Linked DNA regions of Homo sapiens. The protein of the gene in region 3 purifies or fractionates together with the protein of the main gene of each other region. This does not show direct contact. Each region holds a gene or a part of one and is shown on either strand. Other genes may lie near its edges.

Region 1 (7,022 bases), on a different chromosome or scaffold from region 3:
GCAGCAAACTACCATGGCACGTGTATACCTATGTAACAAACCTGCATGTTGTGCACATGTATCCCAGAACTTAAAGTATAATAAAACATTTACAAGAGCCAATTATTAAGTTGTAGAAGTTTAATATTTTTCCCATTGAAAATAGTCTTACGTTATTTTTCTGCTAAATTCTTTAAGAGAGATTGGATTTATTTGAACTTCCTAGAAATTCTGTTGATAATTGCTAGTGATAGCAGTAGTTTACATTTTTACATATAAGATGAAGAAGCAAGGCATTTATTTCAGTAATTTATGTTGATTCTTGCTTTTGGAAAATAGCATAATCAACTTGCTTTTAGTATAGAATTTTCTAATTAACAGTCATGTTAAGTTGGTACCTACTGAGTTTTTTAAAAATGTGAACTATACATCAGAATATTGTTTATAGTAGTAAACAATTAGATACAACCTATTAAGAAAATATAAATGATAGCTGAAAGTTTGTGGTTTTTAACAGTTTTATTGAGATATAATTAATATACCATATAATTCACCCATTTAGGTGACCAATTCAATGGTTTTTCATATGTTCACAGACTTATGCAATCATCACCACAATCAATTTTAGAACAGTTTCATCACCACAAAAAGAAACTTGTACCCATTAGGTGTCTCTCCCTATTCCGCCCCAACTCTCCTAGGCCTCCTCCAGCTTTAGACCAACCACTAATCTACTTCCAGTTTCTATAGATTTGTCTATTTTGGACATTTTATATAAATGAAATCATGTGATATGTGGTTTTTGTGATTGGCTTTTTTCAGTTAGCATAAAATATCCATGTTGTAGCACTATTTTTATGACTAATACATATTCTATGGATATACCAAGGTTTGTTTGTATATTTGTCAATTGATGAACACTTAGGTTGTTTCCACTTTCTGACTATGAATAATACTGGTATGAATATTTGTGTACAGATTTTTATGTGGATATATTTTTTTCATTTCTCTTATATATACACCTAGGAGTGGAATTGCTGGGGCATATGGTAACTCTATGTTTAACCTTTTGAAGAACTGCCACATTGTTTTCCAAAGCAGCTTTACCATTTTACATTTCCACCAGCAATGCATGAGGGTTTAAATTTCTCCACACCCTCTCCAACACTTGTTATTGTCTGTCTTTTTGATTGTAGTCATCCTAGTTGGTGTGAAGTGGTATTTCATTGTGGTTTTGATTTGCATTTCCCTGATAGCTAATGATGTTGAACATCTTTTCATGTGCTTATAGGCCATTTGTATATTTACTTTGGAGAAATGCCTTCAGATTGTGCTTTTCTAAAAGCATTCATTGCCAAATTTTACTTTGAATAATGTGCTTGAAATCAAAACATGAATCATATTATAGCTAGGACATTAAGTGTCACTTACCTTACCTTCCTTAGGGAATATTGGAAATTTGAAGGACATAAGGATTACTTTTGTTAATGGAAATTGACTTTGTCTTTTTTTTTTTTTTTTTTTTCAGTGCTACACTGGAATTTGGAAATCTAGATGAAAGTTCTCTGGTTCAAACAAATGGAAGTGACCTCAGTGCTGAAGACAGAGAGCTCCTGAAAGCTTATCATCATAGTTTCGATGATGAAAAAGTAGACTTGGATTTGATCATGCATCTTCTATACAATATCTGCCATAGTTGTGATGCTGGTAAATACGTGTTGTCTAAAAGAACTGGAGCAAAATATATACTTTAAGAATTAATATTTTAAGTGTACAAATTTTTATATAATTGCACTGATAGTAGTAAGTGAATAATCTCCTGTCATCTTATGATAGTTTACCAGTACTTGAAAACATGTGATACAGATTTTTATAATTCTGTTGATTGCCTCTGATTCACAATGAGATTTAATATTAAAAAGTCATTCTTCTCCAAGGTGCAGTACTAATTTTTCTGCCTGGATATGACGAAATTGTTGGACTGAGAGATCGCATCCTGTTTGATGACAAGCGGTTTGCTGACAGTACACATAGGTAAGGGCTAAAGCCTTATATCTGTTGCTTAAAATAACGGACAGGTCTTATAGTATGTTTTCTCTTTCAATTGTCTGCAGATACCAAGTCTTTATGCTTCATTCAAATATGCAAACATCCGATCAAAAGAAAGTATTAAAAAACCCACCTGCAGGTGTTCGAAAAATAGTAAGCTTCATAAAATCTTCTTTTTAACACTTTCATTAGTTATTTTTTCTGTTTTTTTATTAACTTTAAAGTAATATCTTGTTGCAGATTCTTTCCACCAATATTGCTGAAACCAGCATCACAGTCAATGATGTTGTCTTTGTTATTGATTCTGGTAAGGTGAAAGAGGTATGTATGGGTAAGTTGTAGTTTTACTTAAATGAAGAAGATTAAGTTCTACTTCAACAAATACTTTTATTTATTATTTAGTTGTTTTTCTTTTAATTTTACCTCTACTCAAGACAGCTTGGACCAGCGCATGCTTTTATAAGCAGAATTTACGAAAAATGTCTGGTTCTAGATAAATTTAACATACTAAATATTGATTTTACTAAATATTCTGCCTTAAATAATTCAGTATATAGAATCAATTTTTGTTATTTTAACAAAGTATACAAAAATGTAGCTCTGCTCACCAAATACTAGGAAGAAAGTAAAGGGTTTGGTTAGTTATAGTGAAAATGTTGTCACACAGTATGGGAATTTGATTACATATTTTTTATGTTTTCCTTCTACATATGCACATGGATTATGTCTTTGTTCACTGTTAAATCTTTAGTGCCTCACCTATAGCAGGTGTTCAAAAGATACTCAGTTCAAGAGAACCATGCTGAAAGAAAGCAAAGAAATAGATAAACCATGGGATAACCAGCAGCTAAATTGGACTTAACACTTGCTTTTGTAAAAAAAAAGTTTCATTGGAACTCAGCTAGTCTACTTTTACCTTTTCTCTATGGTTGCTGCCTTCATACTGCAAGGCAGATTGGAGTATTTGTAACAGAGACCCTCTCAAAGCCTAAAATATTTACTATTTGAAAGTCCTTTTCAAAAACAGCCAACCTTTGTTATAAAAAAAAAAAAGCCATTTATTTCCTTTTAGTACTGGAATGCCCAGCAGTTGTCCATGTTCCTAACTTTTGGTAGATAACATTCGCTGAAAAAATGAAAGTGGTAAAGATAATTGATTTTTCAAGGGAAGACATATTACTCATGTGTGGAAAGCAAATTATATCTATTTAGTGGATAAAAATGATCGTTTTTAATGTGAAAAAAGTAATTGCCTTATGTTTTCAATGTAATTTTAAGGAATATTTTATAGAAAATAAAATTTTATTATAAAAATTGGCCATATGCTTTATAATTGAATAAAGGTGGGATAAATTTTATTTTTATATAATAGTACATTAATGAGTATTATCACTAAAAATCTTAATGGTGAGCCAATGAAAATTCAGATTTTATTGCCCTAAAATTACCTAAAGTGGATAAAGTGGGTTTTGAATATTTTAGAAAGTTCCTTTAGGTGTTACTTATTTATTAAGTAACTGAAATTTAAAACATGGGTAGTGTCAAAAGTTATTTAACATACAAAATTGACAAATGTAATGTCATATTAAAAACCAAATAAGCTGTTTTCTAAAAATTTTATAAACTATTATGCAAACATTTTTATTTGCTCTATGCAGTTATTTTATGAAAGGGAAAGTATAAGTACCGAGTGACTGAAATACATGTTCTAGTTAGGCTTGTATTTCTTTAAAATATTTCTCTACAATAAATTTTCACTGTAGGTTATTTGAATAAGTATGTGGATAACAATGGTTCTTTTTTACTTTCTTCATTGTAACGTTCGGGAAAGGCTAACTTTGTTAGTAGCTCAGCAGGAAGTAAAGTGGAAGTGGTTAAAAATATTTCTCTTTGGGATAAGATTATTGATTGTTATTCTTACTCCACAAGGTTAGGTCCCTGAAAAGTATTTCAGAAAATGTCTTTCCTTGATCTTCTTATTCTGCACAGTGATGCAAATCTGATAGGAAAGTGACCTCAAGGGAATAGATCCGTTCTCTCCAATCTTGATGTCTTATGAGAACTGGCTGCCATTATCCAGCTGTGGCAGAGAGCAACAAATAGCTCAGCAGAGCACAGAATGGAGAAGTTTTACGCTCTTCTGAGTTTAGTTTTTAAATCCTTTTTTCTTAGTATGTTTGTAACCAGAAAATCAGGGTTTATTAAAAATCAGTACTGCTGTTTTAATTATTTAATCAAGAGAGGACTTTGAATTAAACTTTTGGCATGTTAAAATATGTTGATAACATTCTTGCTATTACCTTTTAAATACCTTTTATATTCTAACATAAAGATGGTTTAAATATTACAGAAATCCTTTGATGCTCTGAATTTTGTTACAATGTTAAAAATGGTATGGATTTCCAAAGCTAGTGCCATACAGCGGAAAGGCAGGTAATGTATATTTAATGTATATTCATTCAATTGCCTGTAAAATGGAAACGTTTTTATATGCATTACACATTTATCATATATTCCATGTTCAATAAAATAGTAGTTTTCATGTTAAAATTTTTATATTATTTTTGCAAAGCAAGCCATTTTGATACTTCCTTAAAAGTTGAATGTAGGTTATGTTAAAATTAAAAACTTTTGCCTAGTTAAATGTACATTCAGATGTAAGAAGCTTAAAAAACAAAACCAAAAATTCTAAACATATGCAATGTAGGACAAAGAGCTAATTTCCTTATTATATAAAGAAGCTCTTTGAAATCAACTAAAGGCCAATAATCCAGTTAAAATGGATAAAGGGCACAAATAGGCAATTTACCAAAATAAAAAATATGCATGTCCTACTAATACATTAACCTCACATATACTACCTAATATGTATCTAAATAAATGCAAATTAATGAGGTATTATTTTTTGAATCTCAGATGGGCATTGATGAAAATGTTTAACAGTATGTACAACATAGAGGAAAAACATGGGCCAATAGTCTTTCATATTTTACTGATGGGAGTATAGATTGGTGTGACTTCTTCAGAGTGCAATTTGAAACTATTTATCCAAATCTACTCTTTGACCATAGATTCCACTTGTCATAATTTATCCTGAGTATGCTTGCACACGTGTGCAAAGATGTATGTTTAAGACTGTTCTTTGAAGCATTGTTTATAATAATGTAAAGTCTGGGAACAGTGTGATGTCCATCAATACTGAAGTGATTAAATAAATTATAGCCACACAGTGGCTTTCTGGGTAGCTGTTAAAAGGAAAAATGTAGATCTGTGTGTTCTTATATGGAATGAGTTTTCAGGATGCATTGTTAATTGAAAGGATACAGAACATGCATCTAGTAGTCTTTTGTGGTAAGAAAAATATATGTGTGTTTGTGTATGTATTTTGACACAAATGCATCGAGAAGTCTGGGAGAAACATTAAAAAACAATGAATGATTGTTAACTCTGAGAAGGAGGATTTGTGGGGTTCTTGGAGTAAGGAGACAATTTTATTTTTTTTGTAATTTGGTTATTTTACTAAGTGTTTGGGTTACTTTTTAATTTTCAAAAGATAACATTAAAAAGTATCATTTTCAGTAAATATTTATCTTGCATTTTATTATAATTAGCAGGAAAACATGAAATGCTGACTTTCAAAGAATGCCTCATATACTGAAGACTCATGTGCATTATTTCTTTACTTTGTAACTTCATAGAATGCCCATGAGGGCTTTGTTGTTGTTATGTCAGTTGTTTTCTTATGACCAATAGTGGCTTGATACATTAAGCTGGATGTCCCTGCTATTAATAGTATATTATTGTGGGTAAGGCTGGGTGTAGTGGCTTATGCTTGTAATCCCAGCACTTTGGGAGCCTGAGGTGGAAGGATCACTTGAGTCTAAGAGTCTGAGACTAGCCTGGGCATCATAGTGAGACCTTGTCTCTACAAAAAATTAAAAAATCAGCTAGGTGTGGTGGCACAGGCCTGTGGGCCTAGCTACTTGGGAGGCTAAGGTGGGAGGATCATCTGATCCTGGGAGGTCGAGGCTGCAGCTGCCGTGAGCTGTGATCATACCACTCTACTCCAGCCGGAGCGACAGAGCCAGACACTGTCTCAAAAAAAATAAAATAACAAATAGTATATTATTGGAGATGAAGGCCAGAACTGCAAAAATTTTCATTGCCATTTTTCAACAAATGTTTATCAAAAGTCTTCCCTGTGCACATGTTACGGATAGTGATAAATAAACCATAGCCTGATAGGTAAAGCTGGAGGTAGGGCAAATGTTGCAGTCCATGTGGGAGTCCAGTAAATTAAGCAATTTTAATACAGTGTTATTTGTGCTACAACTGGATGTTTCCAGAGTTGTTAAGAATGAATCTGAGACAATTGTGAATAAAGGGGGAGGCATTTCTAAAAGGCAGAGGGAAAGTATAACCAGGTATACTTATTTGCCTAAAGGCAAGAGTGAATAGGGAGGATGTTTGGATAGAATTTAGTTTAGAGAATAGTGAAAAATGAGCTGAAAGTTGGGGACAAGTTTTTAAGGACCATTTTGAGTTTTCTCTCTTTTTTAAAAAAATAAACAGTGGGATGACATGAGTATAGTATTCTTTCAGCTCTCTGAAGAATGGATTGGCAGGAACAAAAATGATGGTAGGAGGACCCAGTAGGAGGCTTCTTCATTAATACTTTCCTATAATAAGGGAGAGATGAAAGTAGTCTGGATTGTTTTAGTGGTGGTGGAAATAAAAATAAATAGATAATTAATTCAAGAGATACTAAAGAAAGTAATGTTGGTGATTGATTGTGTATGTAGGGGGTGAGGGGTAAGGAAGAGAGTGGAGTTAAGGATGTCATCCAGGTTTCTGTCTTAAAAAATCGGACAGTAGTGCCATAGTCAGATAGGGAAAATTGGAAGAGTGTTTTCACTGGAGAGAATAATTAATTTTTGGTTATTTTGAGTTTGAGTTGCCTGTAGAAAATCGAAGTGGATTGGGAGGCTGAGGCG
Region 2 (7,882 bases), on a different chromosome or scaffold from region 3:
CTCACAACTCTAATCCCAACACTTTGGGAGGCCAAGGCAGGAGGACTGCCTGAGCCCAAGAGTTCAAGACAAGTCTGGGCAACATAGGGAGACTCCATCTCTACAAAAAATTTAAAAATTAGCCAGCCGTGGTGGCTCACACCTGTAATCCCAGCACTCTGGGAGCCGAGGCAGGCAGATTGCCTGAGGTCAGGAGTTCGAGACCAGCCTGACCAACACAGAGAAAACCCGTCTCTACTAAAAATACAAAATTAGCCAGGCGTGGTGGCACATGCCTGTAATCCCAGCTAATTGGTAGGCTGAGGCAAGAGAATCGCTTGAACCCAGGAGGTGGAGGTTGCGGTGAGTGGAGATTGCACTCCAGCCTGGGCAACAAGAGCAAAACTCCATCTCAAAAAAAAAAAAAATTAAAAATTAGCTGAGTGTGGTGGCGTGAGCCTGTGGTCTCAGCTACTTCGGAGGCTGAGGTGGGAGGAATGCTTGAGCTCGGGAGGTTGAGGCTGCAGTGAGCTGTGATCATGCCACTGCACTCCAGCCTGGGTGACAGAGCAAGAGTGTCTTTAAAAAAAAAAAAAAAAGCACACACACACACATTTTTCACCTTTACAGGTTTTTCTCAAGTACTGTCTATTCAGTAAACATGAATACATGCTATTTCCATATCCTCAGTTATGTGCAGGAAAATGAGGAAGATCTAAGATGATTTACCAAAGGTTTGGGTCTCTAGTGTACATGAATTCCAAACTTTAGAAAGAAGAATACTGAAATTGCCTATTTATCAAGTCTGTTCATGCACGTGTCAAAAAAAGCTGTAAGATTGGGAATCCCAACAAAACAACTTCTTGTATAATGAGTAACTACAGAAGCGCACAGAATTTACTAGTCACACAATAAAGAGACTGAAAGTACCAATATCACTATTAATATTAGAAGCAAGAAACCTTTGAAGGACACGCATTAGCCCTCAGTTCTAATGGAACTGCATTAAATTAGAACCTAAAGCTGAATTTATCTTTACTATATGGGTTTTGAATTAATCATAACCATAAAACAAAGAGTATTATGACAGTTACTCTCACATAAATGCATGTTAAATATAAAGTGAATAAGTAACAACTACACGGTGAACTTATTCTAACAATGGAGAAAGTTTCCAGCTCCAATATCCAGTCCATCCTATTTTCCACAAAAAGTTGTCAGAAAAAATTTTTTTTCCCATTAAGAAATCTGATTCAGTCCAGGCGCCACGGCTCACGCCTGTAATCCCAGCACTTTGGGAAGCCAAGGCGGGCAGATCACGAGGTCAGGAGGTCAAGACCAGCTTGGCCAACGTGGTAAAACCCCGTCTCTACTAAAAATACAAAAATTAGCTGGGCGTGGTGGCGCGTGCCCGTAATCCCAGCTACTCGGGAGGCTGAGGCAGGATAACTGCTTGAACCATGTGTTTTTTTTTTTTTTGTCCTGAGACTCCTCAGGACATCAGGCAGTAACTATCAATTGTAGGCCTCTAAAAATGCTTGTTAAACCAAAAGGCAATGCTCTGATTACTGGAGGAATCTAGATTGCCAAGATCAGCAAAACTACATTAGAAAGTTAATAGCTTCCATCCTTAAAATATCCCAAGAGAAGAAAGGGAGTGATTCTGTTAGCATGTACCCAATACTACACAATAAAAGCCTAAGCAAAATTGGCAGATGTTTTTGTAATTAAGAGGTCCAACCTTGACGAAGTATCATCAGTAGGATTTTAATTCTACTGGGTAAGAGGATTCAGAAAGCAAAAGGTCAGGCAAAAAACGAAAAACCCATCCAAACAGAAACTGCTCAAGGATCTGGTAGGGCTCGTACCGATGTTCTCTACTTCAACCTGTGAGCATCAATTTTGTGATGGGGGCTGCCGGGGACGGGGGTCGGGGCGGGGGGGTGGACAATTTTAAAGTGAGAATGAATGGCTTGCGTAAAGGCGATAGTCTTTAACACGGGTTCGTCAGTGTACATCCTCGCCGGTTTTGAAATAAAGTTGACAAACTCCCCAGAAGCGGTCTATTTTGGAGACTGACACATCTCTCGCATTGACTGGAGGCGCCTGCCGACCGAAGGTAGTGGAAGCGCCGAGAGGCAGGCGGCGCCAAGCCTATAAGAAAGCCTTTTCTCCCTCCACCAAGGCCACTGCGGCCGCGGCGCCGGAGCTCTCCGCTGCAGGGGCAGGTGTCGGCGCCAGACCCCCTACTCTCGGAGCTGGCGGAGTTGCCGCCACTGCTTCCCCCGCGGGCCTAGGAGCCGGAAAGTTGCGTGAAGACAACTCCAGGGCCGTGAAGTCGCTTCCCCCCGCAGCCCGGGGACTGCGGCACCTCCAGCCTCCCCTCAGCACCCCCGGAAAAGGACTCGCCTCAACCCGGCCCCAGCGTCTGGGGGCTTGGAGTGCCGGAGCCAACTCCGCCGGGCCGGGAGGACGCTAGGGTCACCAACGGCGGACGAGCAAGGAGGTCGGAGAGGTGCGATGCCCCAGCGTCAGCCGGCAATCCAGGCTGCGAGTTCCCGGCGCCCACCAGCCAGGCCCGCTAGGACCCCAGCGTCCGGACGCCGCAGAGCCCTCACCGCGGCCCGCAGCCCTCCGATTCGCCCCGACCCCTCCCTGGGACGCAACCCGGGCCCCCCAACTCGACCAGTAGCCAGGCCGCGGCCCTGCGCCCCTTCCCGCCTCACCTGCGCTCCGCGGCGACTCCGTGCCTTCTCGCTCGCTTCGCGCGCGCCCCGTCGGGGCACGCACCGAACCCCCGGCCGGGACTCTTCCCCGCTGCGGTGACTCAGGACGCGACGGCCACCGCCGCCTTCTCCTCCTCGGAACAAGCCCCGGCAGCGAGCAGTGGGTCGCGGTCAGAGCCCCTGCCGGGACCAAAGTGAACCTCGCCGCCTCCGCAGCCTCTACCACCAAGTCCCTTCAGTCGTCCGCGCCGCCCCCAAGAAAATGTCACCAGAGGCCGTTCCGCTGGGCGCCTCACTTCCGCCCGGAAACACAGAGCCCGCGTCGGCCGGCTAGAGAGGCAGCTGCGCCGGAGACCTCTGGAGACTGGCGCCCGAGGCCCGAGAAAAGCCAGACAGCGCCATCTGGCGCGATGGAACCCGCGCTCCTCCCGCTGCAGACCGCGGGGCGTGAAGGCGCCGGCTCCCCGGGCTTCTTTCCCGCGCTCCCTCCTTCTGTTGAGACCGTCACCTTCCCGAAATGTCTTTCCCGGGGGGTGGGAAAGCCACTCAATGCAAGCCAAGGACAATGCCTTCAGCAAAGGACAGCGCTCCCTTTTCTGTGCGCTGCTCAGTACTCACCCCCTCCTGAAGCCCTTCCGAAAGCAGCTTGCGGTGTCTGAATCCCAGAGTCGCTCCAGCGGAGAGCCCGTGCCCTTCTCTCCCCGCTTTTTCGCGGATGCCGATAGCTGGGCTCGGGGAGACTCGGCTGAGCTCTTCTCGGGCAGCGGCACCAATATCTGCTCAAGTTTCTGTCCGGGCACCTTGCAGGCCTTGCAGATCGACCGCCACCTGCTGGTGGGACGTGGCCCGCTGGGGAGACCCCGCTCTGCCCCGAATTCCGCCTCTGCAGTCGCCCTCCGATTTGCAGTCAGCCCTGGGGAGGGTGGGGGAAACGAGGTGGACCCGAACCCCGAAGAAGGGGAGGAGGGCGCAGGCCCACTGGCGGGTGGAGCGTTTCCCAAGGAGGAGCAGGAGATGCTGAAGACATATCTCAAGACTCAAGATCTGGCCAAGGACCCGCGCTCCCCCAAAGCAAAGCAGTGTTTTGAGAAGAAAAATAATAATAATAAAGCTTTGAGGAGGAAAATGTAAACGGTCTTTACCTTTACAGAGCTGTGCTGGAACCTCGGATGAGACCCGTCAAGAGGAGATTCTGAAAATCTCACACCACTGGGTCCGCACTCCCCTAAATATCAGTCTCCCCCTTCAGACCAGGCCCCTTAGTTCCCCCACTTCACTCATTTTTTCTGACTGCCTACAGGAGTGCGAGTTTTTCATCCCCAACTACAAGAATAAATTAAGAAAAGAAAATAATTTTATTATACCAGGCACCTTGCATTTAAATGGGTTAAATCCACTGAATCCTCATTACAACTCATAACAACCCTATGAGTTGGATGGCGTTACTAGTCCCAAATTGCAAAGGTGGAAACTGAGGGACAGAGTGACCTGCCCAAGATGACACATCCAAGTAAGTGGCAGTGTTGGATTCCAACACAGGCAGAGCTTACTTTCTTAACCACAGCCACCAACTGCCTCACTGAGAATCACAGAGAACGTAGTGTGTGCTAGCTAAGTAGTTTATCCGTGTATGTTATTTCACTCGTTCATTCATTTATTTACTTTCTGCTACCTGAGTCCTCAAGGGATTTGAGAGGTTATGGGGTAGTGACAAGAGCCCAGCCTATTTCAGGAAAAAAAGAAAAGAAAAGGAAAAATCACACTAAGATCACAACTTTCAGTCTGGAAATGAATGAATGTGGACTAATACATTGAGTTTTTAAAAGATTCCTTGACAGTCTGATCTAATCAATGCTGCAGAAATACTGAAGTAGGACCCTGACTACTGAGATACCATCTTGGGTCCTTCTCCTGTTTTTTGTTTTTTGTTTTTTGCTTTGTGGTTGTTGTTTCTTTGTTTTTTGTTTGGTTGGTTGGTTTTGGTTTTTTGGTTTTTTTCTTGAGACAGAGTCTTGCTCTGTCGCCCAGGCTGGAGTTCAGTGGCGCGATCTTGACTCACTGCAATCTCTGCCCCCCGAGTTCAAGCGATTCTCCTGCCTCAGCCTCCCGAGTAGCTGGGATTACAGGTGCACGCCACCACACCCAGCTAATTTTTTGGTTTTTTAGTAGAGACGGGGTTTCACCATGTTGGCCAGGCTAGTCTCAAACTCCTGACCTCAGGTTATCCACCCACCTCAGCCTCCCAAAGTGCTGGGATTACAGGTGTAAGCCAGCGCACCCAGCCCCTTCTCCTGTTTAATACCAATAAGTCAATTTCCTACGTCGAATGGCCTTTGTATATTTTTGGAGGCTAGGGCATTTGATATCCTAATTACTAATATTTTTATTACTACTATATTTCCATTATTAAATGGTACAGTTACTTGCTTCTTCCCCTTCTTCTGTAGGAGCAGAAGGGATCCTACTTCTGCCTCAAAGTCTTCTGTGTATCCAATACTTAGCTCTACAAGCTCCTGAAATGCCATCTCTCCCATAAAACCAGCTCAGCCCAGACACAACCCCCGTCACCACTACCCTTATTACCCCCTCCATCCTGGCCTTCCACTGTGGGTCAGGACTCCCCTGCTCACACACACTCTCCTACAAACATGTCTGCCCTTGGTCTATCTGTAGGGTTACTACTAAACCATATTCGTCATCCTCTCAACTTCTGTCATAGCCCTAGAGGCCAGAGCCAAGCCTGTCAGAATCACTCTTCACCATCATTTTTTGCACCTGATATACCGCCTAGCCTGGGGCTAAGCCTGCAGCAGGTACCTGCCAGCTGTGGTGGCCTGGACAGTAGCATCAGGGCGTGGCTGGTCTGGCTTTGACTGTAACCTGATCTCTCCTGACTGAGCAGGTTACTTCTACCATTTGCCCTGTAAAATGGACACAATTATGAGAACCACTCTAGAGATGATGAAAGTAGGGGGAGACGAGGGGAGGGAACCCTCATTTCTGGGCTCTGGGCTGCCCCCTCCCTTCCATCTCAGATTGCTAAGAATTGGGCAACCTAAGGCCAGGCGTGGTGGCTCACGCCTGTAATCCTAGCACACTGGGAGGCCAAGGTGGGCGGATCACCTGAGGTCGGGAGTTCAAGACCAGCCTGGCCAACATGGTGAAACTCCATCTCTACTAAAAAAAAAAAATACAGGCCGGGCACGGTGGCTCACGCCTATAATCCCAGCACTTTGGGAGGTTGAGGCGGGCAGATCACCTGAGGTCAGGAATTCAAGACCAACCTGGGCCGGGCGCGGTGGCTCACGCCTGTAATCCCAGCACTTTGGGAGGCCGAGGCGGGTGGATCATGAGGTCAGGAGATCGAGACCATCCTGGCTAACAAGGTGAAACCCCGTCTCTACTAAAAATACAAAAAATTAGCCGGGCACGGTGGCGGGCGCCTGTAGTCCCAGCTACTCGGGAGGCTGAGGCAGGAGAATGGCGTGAACCCGGGAGGCAGAGCTTGCAGTGAGCCGAGATTGCGCCACTGCAGTCCGCAGTCCGGCCTGGGCGACAGAGCGAGACTCCGTCTCAAAAAAAAAAAAAAAAAAAAAAAAAAAAAAAGACCAACCTGGCCAACATGGTGAAACCCCGTCTCTACTAAAAATACAAAAAATTAGCCAGGTGTGGTGGTGCACACCTGTAATCCCAGCTACTCCGGAAGCTGAGACAGGAGAATCACTTGAACCCTGGAGATGGAGGTTGCAGTGAGCCAAGACTGTGCCACTGCACTCTAGCCTGGGTGGCAGAGCGAGACTCTGTCTCAAAAAAAAAAAAAAAAAAAAAGAAAAGGCTGGGCACTGTGGCTCATGCCTGTAATCCCAGCACTTTGGGAAGCCGAGGCGGGCGGGTCATGAGGTCAGGAGTTTGAGACCAGCCTGGCCAACGTGGTGAAACCCCGTCTCTACTAAAAATACAAAAACAAATTATCCAGGCATGGTGGCAGGCACCTGTAGTCCCAGCTACTCAGGAGGCTGAGGCAGAAGAATCACTTGAACCCAGGAGGCGGAGCTTGCAGTGAGCCCAGATCACGCCACTGAACTCCAGCCTGGGCGTCAGAGCGAGACTCTGTCTCAAAAAAAAAATTAGCCGGGTGTTGTGGTGCACTCCTGTAGTCCCAGCTACTCGGGAGGCTGAAGCAGGAGAATCGCTTGAACCTGGGAGGCGGAGGTTGCAGTGAGCTGAAATTGTGCCACTGCACTCCAGCGAGACTCCGACTCAAAAAGAAGAAGGGGCAACCTGGCCTCCCTCAACGTAACCACCCACCCCCACCATAGCCAGCACCCACTAGGATCGCCCAGGACCTGCTAGAAGGCAGTGGCCTCTGGGGAAATGCTGACCTTCTGCACAATAGTAGCCACAGAACCTCAGACAAGTCACCGCTTCCAGGGTTAACATGACTCGCTCTGCCTCACAGCGTCATTCCATAGGATTAAATGGCCTCCTCCAACACAAGGACATCCAGAAGCATTCTAAGGACTCTGAGTAGTGGAAGATCAGACAGTTGTCAGGACCAGGGGCTCTGGGGTTTGACAGATGTGACATTGGACTGAGTTCCACCTCTCTAGCAGAGTGACCCTCAGGCAGTTATGTAACCTCACTGAGCCCCATTGTCCTCGCCTGCCAGACATGGATGACCCCCCAGTACTCCCTTGCAGGCTCTGGAGGAGTGAGGGTAGAATGACTCATGATTTCAGCTCTCAGCTCCATGCTCGGCTCAGACAGAATGCTCTAGAAAGAGGCTGCCGCTCTGATGGCAGCACTCCAGGCCAGCACCTTCTAGGCCACAGACTCTCAGTGGTCAAATACAGTGAAATTTCCATCTCAACAGACTCATTTTTCCAGAGCAGCAGGTTCACGTGGAACCAGAATGGAACAGTGCAGAAGGATACCATGAAAGTGTAGCCAAGGGTGACTGGGAGGGGGCCCCCTTTCCCCCACAAACCTCTAGCTCCCCACCCTGGTTCTCTGGGCTGGCCAATTAAGACTGGTCTGTCTTGGGTAAAGTACTCTGAAACTCAGCTCCAAGTCTCTCTTTCTAACCAGGTGATTCCCCTGAAACTCCATCTATTTAGAAAGTCTGTAAGTTCTGAAAATGGGGGAAAAAAAGTGAAAATAAATGCAAAGGACAGTTT
Region 3 (7,857 bases):
CACAGAAACATGTGCTGTATTGACTCAAGGTTTAATGGAGTTAGGGCTGTGCAGGATGTGCCTTGGTAAACATGTGTTTGCAGGCAGTATGCTTGGTAAAAGTCATCGCCATTCTCCCGTCTCGGGTACCCAGGGACACAATGCACTGCGGAAGGCCACAGGGACCTCTGCCCGAGAAAGCCTGGGTATTGTCCAAGGTTTCCCCCCACTGAGACAGCCTGAGATGTGGCCTCGTGGGAAGGGAAAGACCTTACCTTCCCTCAGCCCGACACCCATAAAGGGTCTGTGCTGACGAGGATTCATGAAAGAGGAAGGCCTCTTTGCAGTTGAGATAAGAGGAAGGCATCTGTCTCCTGCTTGTCCCTGGGAATGGAATGTCTTGGTGTAAAACCCGAGCGTACATTCTATTTACTGAGATAGGAGAAAGCCGCCTTATGGCTGGAGGTAAGACATGCTGGCGGCAATACTGCTCTTTACTGCACTGAGATGTTTGGGTAAAGTCAAACATAAATCTGGCCTACGTGCACATCGAGGCACAGCACCTTTCCTTAAACTTATTTATGACACAGAGTCCTTTGCTCACATGTTTTCCTGCTGACCCTCTCCCCACTCATTACCCTATAGTCCTGCCACATCCCCCTCATGGAGATGGTAGAGATAGTGATCAATAAATACTGAGAGAACTCAGAGACTGGTGCTGGTGTGGGTCCTCCATATGCTGAGTGCCAGTCCCCTGGGCCCACTTTTCTTCCTCTATACTTTGTCTCTGTGTCTTATTTCTTTTCTCAGTCTCTCATCTCCACCTTGCAAGAAATACCCACAGGTGTAGAGGGGCAGGCACCCTTCACTAAGTCCTCTGGTCCTCACTGTGTCCCTGCCAGGCTAAGGCTTCCTTAGCCGTGGTAAAGCAAATAAAGGCCTGACTTAAATCAGGCCTCCTGAATCTGACACTTGCCAGCTATGTGACTATGACGATGTCACATGATCTCTCTAAGGCTCGATTTCCGAATCAACACAATAACTATTCCCATCTCAGCAGGCAGCTCTAAGAACTAAACAGAAAATGTTCACTTAGGCAATCAGTGGAGTGCCTAGCACATGTAAGTGCCTGATGTGTTTGGGAACTTTATTAATCCCCTGACAGGCCCAGAGGTAAATGTCGTTATCACTTCCATTTCACAGTCAGCAAAGGCTCAGGGAGCTTTAGAAATCAGGCACAGCCTCACATTTAAAAAGCAAAAGCAGCATTTGAGCACCGCTAAAACACCTCACCAAGCTGCCAGAGAGCAGGCAGGTGGGAGTGAGGGGTGCTTTTAGCTACAGCCAGCACTGCCAGGATGGGTGTGGAACTGCAGCCCCGCAGAGACCTGAGAACAATGTCTCAGACAAAGGGAAGTGCAAGGGCAAAGGCTGAAAATGGGAAAGAGCTTGGCAAGCTCAGGATTCCCTGGATGAATGCAGTGAGAAAGGGGACAATGGAAGAGGAGAAAGAAGATGCGGTCAAAAGGGCAAACCAAGTACAGCCTTGCAGACCATGCTGGTAGGAGGGGGTGGATTTATTGGAAATGTGATGAGAGTCCCTATAAGAGAGGCCTATTCAATCATCAACCATTTATTAAGTACAATAAATGTACTTAAGCCTGGCTGTTCTGGGTCTTGGGAGAGGGAAGCAACAGGCACTCACATTCCAGGGTTGGAAAAAGATCCTAAACAGGCAACTAAATAAATGAGTAAGGCAATGTCAGATGGCCTTAAAGATTCAGATGACAAGAAAACAGAGCAAGGAGACCAAAGAGACTCTGGTCAGCTTTAAACGGTGCAACAGACGAGACCTCTTTAAGCAGCGGACACCAGAGGGAGTCAGAAATAAAGCAAAGGAGGGAGAGGTGGATGAGAAATTAACAACTACGACAGGAGCTGACAGTAATCTGGGCTATCATGAAAGTAATCAGAGTGACTGCTAGAGAGTAACCCTGGGCCTCATGTGTTATCTCCAAAGGGACACTACATCCTGCATACCATCGCCACTGAACATTTTAATGGACTCGTTTTTCACCTGTAACTAAATGTCTTAAACAGGAAAATATACTGTTAGTTGCAACCCAGCGTCCCTTGCCCTAAACTGAAAGACAAATTCCTCAGCCTGCCCTACCACCTTTTCTGCCCTGGCATAGCAGCAACCGCAGAAACGCTCCTCCCACCTCTTTCAGCCGCTGCCCTTCGTGTTGTAGAGACAGGAGGCCAAGGAGGCCAGAGGGTCAGACTCCTGCTGGGGTTGAGTCTCCAAACCTAGCACAGGCCCAGGGAGCAGCTCCGGAAACAACATCCTGAGCGACGTCCCCGGACCGTGCTGTGCACTGAGACGGACACACACACATCACCCAGGGAGCCGTTCAAGCTTCCTCAACCCCGGGGGGGGGAAGAGTAAATATTTCTACTTTGCGCGCGCAAAAATGAAGGACGAGGACAGTAACGGGACTTGTTCAAGGTCGCAGGCCCGAGAAAGGACATGGTTGGAAGAGCCACGAGGAGGACTGCGGTCGCTCCTCTCACCTGTGAGGGGTTCCGGGACCCTAAAAGCCCTATTTCATACCACAACGCCGCGCACCCCAGAAACGGGGACGCTCCCCACGCCACCGCGGGCCTGCATTCCGGACCCGGGACCGCGCGACCCCCTTCTAGGCCTCTAAGAAGCAACGGCAGGGACTGCACTGAGGACGACCCTGAAACGCCGTCCTTCCGCTCGTCGGGCCCGGGACACTGAGGCCGGGTGGCCGCGGGGAGCCGAGCCAGTCTGCTCACCTGCGCTGCGTCCTTCGTCTCCGCCATCCGACCGTTGGCAGGACGAGGCCGCGTGGGGCAGCTCCCACGGGCTCAAAACCCTACCCCGGGTCCTACAACGGTGCGGAGGTGAGCCCCAGTCGCCCTACCATCCTTCCCAGCACAGTTCTGAGAGCGCGGACCAACACGCCCCACCACAAACGTCCACGCCAGCGAGGCCGGAAGTCCCGCCCCTGTGTCGCGGTCGCCTGCCACGCCTTTTCCTGCGCCGGCCCACTGCCTTCTAGGTAATGTAGTCTTGTCCCGTAAGAGGCCAGGCTTGGCTCTTTTTCCTTTTTTATTATGCACACCATGTTTCTGTATATCTCAGATGATCTTAGCGGAGCAAGTGTACACACTGGATTGTAAATTTTTAAAACTTCCTATTATTCGGATGCCTCAACGTCCCTACAAGCAGGCTGTGAGCACTCGCCCAGGCACCCAGGTAAACGAGTTTGATAAAGGGGGCCCTGCCACGAGGTTCCCCGCTTGCCTCCTCTGAGTGACCCAGTGACATTCCCATGTACCAGTAAAATCTTACGCCTGGTTACTGCGTCCTCCTCCACCCTGACGCCAGGCACTGTCCCTGGGACTGGCGTGGATCTGGACCCCCGCTTCCCGCGTGGAGCCATTCCCGGGACATGCTCGTGGGGTTCCGTCTGTGGGACGTCTGCCTCCTCTGTGTGGACTGGTGTTGCCCAGGGCTCAGGAAGGTCTCCAGGGGCCGTGAGTCCCCGCCCGCTTCCGGAGTCCAGCTTCGTGACACCATCGTGAGAAAGAATGCAGGGATGAGTCAAAATGAAGCCAAAGGCAAGAAGCTTTTATTGGGAAGAAAAAGTACACATTTTTGAGAAGAGTGTACTTTTCCCAAGAGAAGAGGGAAATGCGGACGTACGAGGGAGAGCGGGTCATGCACAATGGAGTTTGGGTTTCTAATTTTATGGGCTCTTCTAATTAGGGGGTGGGATAATCATGAGGTTTTTCTAGGAAAAGGTGGGAATTTCTTAGAATTGGGGTGCCAACCATTTTTATACTAAATGTGGGCGTGCTTGGATTGGCCTGGCACTGGTGGGTGTGTGATTTAATGTGGCAATGAGTGTATAATTAGGTCTGGGGTAGGAAATGGGTCAAATCTAGCGTCATGGGACAGCCTAGCCCCAATCCTGTTTGTTAAGGTCTCATCAGCCCAGTCTTCTTGTTGGAGTAGCTAATTTTAACAGCTTGATGTTTTCCCCCTTCTCCTGTGACCACACAGCATTCCTATTTTGTGGGTGTTTCTTTAATTAGAGAGTGGAATAATTATTAGGTATTCTGGAAAAGGAGGGAAATTCAGGGACCCACCTGGTTACTGCCCCCTTTCTCTCTTATTTGGCTTTGCCCAGAAGAGTCATGGACATGTCATCCTGACTGGGATTTTGGCCATTCTTTCTCTTATTTTGGGTTTTCTGTTATCCTATGGTTTCTTTGCCTAGTTCTTGTTTTTATTTGTTGTTCGAATTTTTCCATCCTCCTGCAACCACCCAGTGCTATTCCTATATCACTGTGAGTATAAACACCCTTTAACCTTATAGGCTTCTTGAAGTATAATTCCCAAGACCATGTTGCAGTGGTCCTTAAAGAACCAATAAGGCAGAGAGAAACAAACATGTTCCAAATTTTGTTCTCAGGAGTAAACCTTACTCAATTGTTAAAGGCTGTAGCTAGCTCAAAAGAAGTTTCCTTGACTCTGAAAAACAAAACAAGGATCAGCAATGTTCCAAGCAAAAGTCAAAAAGATTATTTCAGTTTTTCTATTAGTTCAGCCTATTCTGTTAACTCTTGTTCTGCTTGATATTTATAAACATTTTAGCTTTTCATGAGTCCTGTATGTTTTTCAGTTATCAGAAACCTGCATTTAGGAATACCTGTTAAAGTATTCCTACATCTGATTATGAACCATATTTTGAAGAGGATTAAAACAAGACAACAATTGTCTGTAAATGACAAAATGTCCAGGGTGGTTAGTCAAAAACATGATTGACAAAAAAAATTTGGTTATCTCCGTGGTTTACAATAACAACATAACAACCTTAATTGTGGTTGATAGTGTATACTTTCACATTAGAGTTTTCTAAATCCCATGCAGTTTTGGAACACATATTAATAGTATTTGCTGAAATATAACCTGAAGAAGATTAGACATCATTTTGGCAATCCCATGTAACAAAACATGTCAAATAATCCTGCTTGCCTCTTTTCTGGATGCCCCAGGGACCCTCTGTAGCATCCAAAACGTAGGTGTCAAGAAAGACAATTGATTTGTGGAAGCCTGTTAAATATGTTAACAGGCTTAAAATATTTGATGTTATGTACTAGAATTCCAGATTACTATAAGTTATTTATTTTGCCAAAATGATGACTCAAAAATTTGAAAAAGCAAAAACCTTTCATTAGCCTTTACTATTACATGAAAATTGTGTTCAAGAGAGAGAAAGCCAAATTTCACCCTTACATTAGTGTACTATTAATGTCAACCACAATTTTTAATGAAACAATTATAGGCAATTCTATCCAATCTTAACCAGTTTGACAATGAGGTGAGATTTTCACAAACCTTTTATAACCCTTTACAAATTTTGCTAAAGAGTAGATTCATGCATTAAGAGTTCTTTGTTGTGCTTTTATTTCAATGCTCAATTTACAGAAAACCACATAATACCCTTTTGAATGTAGTCAATATATTCACACAGAGTTTCCTTTGCAAGATTAATTCTTACAATTTTTTCCCCAGTTTGCTTAAACCTTCAGTTGTATTTTATCTACTTTAAGACAATTCTTTATCCCTAGGCAAAACGTACATTGCCATGCCTTCTTATAATTTTTTACAAAAAACACATTTTACTGTTTTTACACACATTGCATGTAAATCTATTCAGTAGTCTCAATTACATGTCATAATGGTAACTCTTAGCAATTTTTTTTTTAAGATGGAATCTTGCTCTGTCACCCAAGCTGGAGTGCAGTAGCACAGTCTTGGTTCACCGCAACCACCACCTCCCAGGTTCAAGCGATTCTCCTGCCTCAGCCTCCCAAGTAGCTGGGACTACAGGCACATGCCACCATGCCAGGCTGATTTTTTGTATTTTTAGTAGAGATGGGGTTTCACCGCATTAGCCAGGATGGTCTCAATCTCCTGACCTCGTGATCTGTCCGCCTCAGCTTCCCAAAGTGCTAGGATTACATGTGTGAGCTACCACGCCTGGCCCTACCTCTTAGCAATTTTTAACTTTAGTGTAAAACCTGGTAAGTTGTTTTAATTATTTGCTGGGTGCAGATAAAGTTTAACTCCTTCCAGAATAAGTTAGGGGCTTGGTTACTTCCATATGTTCCCAGACTTTACCCATTGTGAAGCAGGCAAGTTGAACAGTTCTTAAAGGCCAAAGGAGCAGTACAACCTTAAAACATTTAGCAAACCTACCATCTGACCTGCATAATTTAGACCACATATTTACATCTTGAGTACATTTGTATTTTACCAATAATCCCTAAGACTGTTTTATTTTTAAAGATTAAAGTCACATGAACTAAGAGAAATTACAGTTTTTACTATTCTTTCAAAAAAGATTTGATCGGCCAGGCGCAGTGGCTCACACCTGTAATCCCAACACTTTGGGAGGCTGAGGTGGGTGGATCATAAGGTCAGGATATTGAGACCATCTTGGCCAACATGGTGAAACCCCATCTCTACTAAAATACAAAAAATTAGCCAGGCATGGTGGCACGTGCCTGTAATCCCAGCTACTTGGGAGGCTGAGGCAGAGCAATTGCTTAAACCTGGGAGGCGGAGGTTGCAGTGAGCCAAGATCGCACTACTGCACTCCAGCCTGGTGACAGAGCAAGACTCAGTCTGGGAAAAAAAGAATTTTATTTGATCTAAGTGCTTATAGGCCAATCAATTACAGCTCTTTTTTATAGACATCACACAACACATATATGACTACACAGACAGAAGAAGATCCAGCAGCTCAGGGTGGAGCCCTTTAAGAATAAGGCTACAAAAGCATGCAGTTTCTGGGGCCTAATAAACAGGCATAGCTCGAAGGCCAAAACAGATTTTGAGAGGGATTTATCCATCTCTAATTCTTGGGGTTCCATGAGGAAAACAGATTTCCCCCAAATTGAATCTGTGGCACCTTGTCTGTTTTCTCAAGGAGTCCAAGGCCACCAGAAGTCATCCTTGAGCCTTTCATGCATGCACCAAGATTGGCAAGACAGAGTGGAGAAAAGTAATTCAGTTGACTGAGATACAAACCTTTTCCAGAAAAACAAGATCTAAGAAGAGAAAAACATAAAGGCGTTTCAAGGACACCTATAACTTGGGTATCCACTTTTAATTAAGCTGAGTGCTCTTTCATAAAATTCTTCTTTACTAATTAAAACTTTACAGATAATATAAACAATGATCCTTATCTTTTTTTTTTTTTTACTGGTTTGCATCACTCTTTGTTCACAATCATGTTCAGGTTCTCCAGTTTACTTTTGGGGAAAGTGGCTGGATTCAGGCAAGGACAGGTTTTTAACTGGACTGTAGATCCCTCTAACAGCAAGCCCTGATATTTGAAGAGGCAATTGTCTGTTAGCCAGAGACTTCCCTTAGAGGATAGCAGTCCTGCTATATTATGTGGGGTCTAAACAGTTATTTTCCGGCTGGGTGCGGTGGCTCATGCCTGTAATCCCAGCACTTTGGGAGGCTGAGGTGGGTGGATCAAAAGGTCAAGAGATCAAGACTATCCTGGTCAACATAGTGAAACCCCATCTCTACTAAAAATACAAAAGTTAGCAGGGCATGGTGGTGCACACCTGTAGTGCCGGCTACTCAGGAGGCTGAGGCAGAAGAATTGCTTGAACCCAGGAGGCAGAGGTTGCAATGAGCCGAGATCACGCCATTGCACTCCAGCCTGGTGACAGAACGAGACTCTGTCTCAAACAAACAAAAAACAAACAAACAGTTATTTCCCATTATTAACTTGGTGGCCTCTGGCACGAGCAAAGCCACCA

Evidence for each region. Proteins that work in one complex are often made in the same cells at the same time.
Region 1: the proteins of ZNF550 (region 3) and YTHDC2 purify together in Homo sapiens (co-immunoprecipitation; 3 studies listed by BioGRID and IntAct, with this or other methods). This does not show direct contact.
Region 2: the proteins of ZNF550 (region 3) and ARK2N purify together in Homo sapiens (affinity purification with mass spectrometry; 2 studies listed by BioGRID and IntAct, with this or other methods). This does not show direct contact.

What each region holds. Positions count from the first base shown.
Region 1 is NC_000005.10:113,551,674-113,558,695, forward strand, and holds part of YTHDC2 (3'-5' RNA helicase YTHDC2), read left to right. Parts: intron 1-1,507; coding exon 1,508-1,686; intron 1,687-1,916; coding exon 1,917-2,013; intron 2,014-2,093; coding exon 2,094-2,181; intron 2,182-2,268; coding exon 2,269-2,349; exon of another isoform or gene 2,350-2,359; intron 2,360-4,378; coding exon 4,379-4,461; intron 4,462-7,022. UniProt on the Homo sapiens protein: 3'-5' RNA helicase that plays a key role in the male and female germline by promoting transition from mitotic to meiotic divisions in stem cells.
Region 2 is NC_000018.10:46,169,154-46,177,035, reverse strand, and holds the start of ARK2N (protein ARK2N), read right to left. Parts: upstream 3,003-7,882; 5' UTR 2,706-3,002; intron 1-2,705. UniProt on the Homo sapiens protein: AMPK substrate important for exercise capacity and skeletal muscle function.
Region 3 is NC_000019.10:57,556,854-57,564,710, forward strand, and holds the start of ZNF550 (zinc finger protein 550), read right to left. Parts: upstream 3,011-7,857; 5' UTR 2,830-3,010; coding exon 2,803-2,829; intron 1-2,802. UniProt on the Homo sapiens protein: May be involved in transcriptional regulation.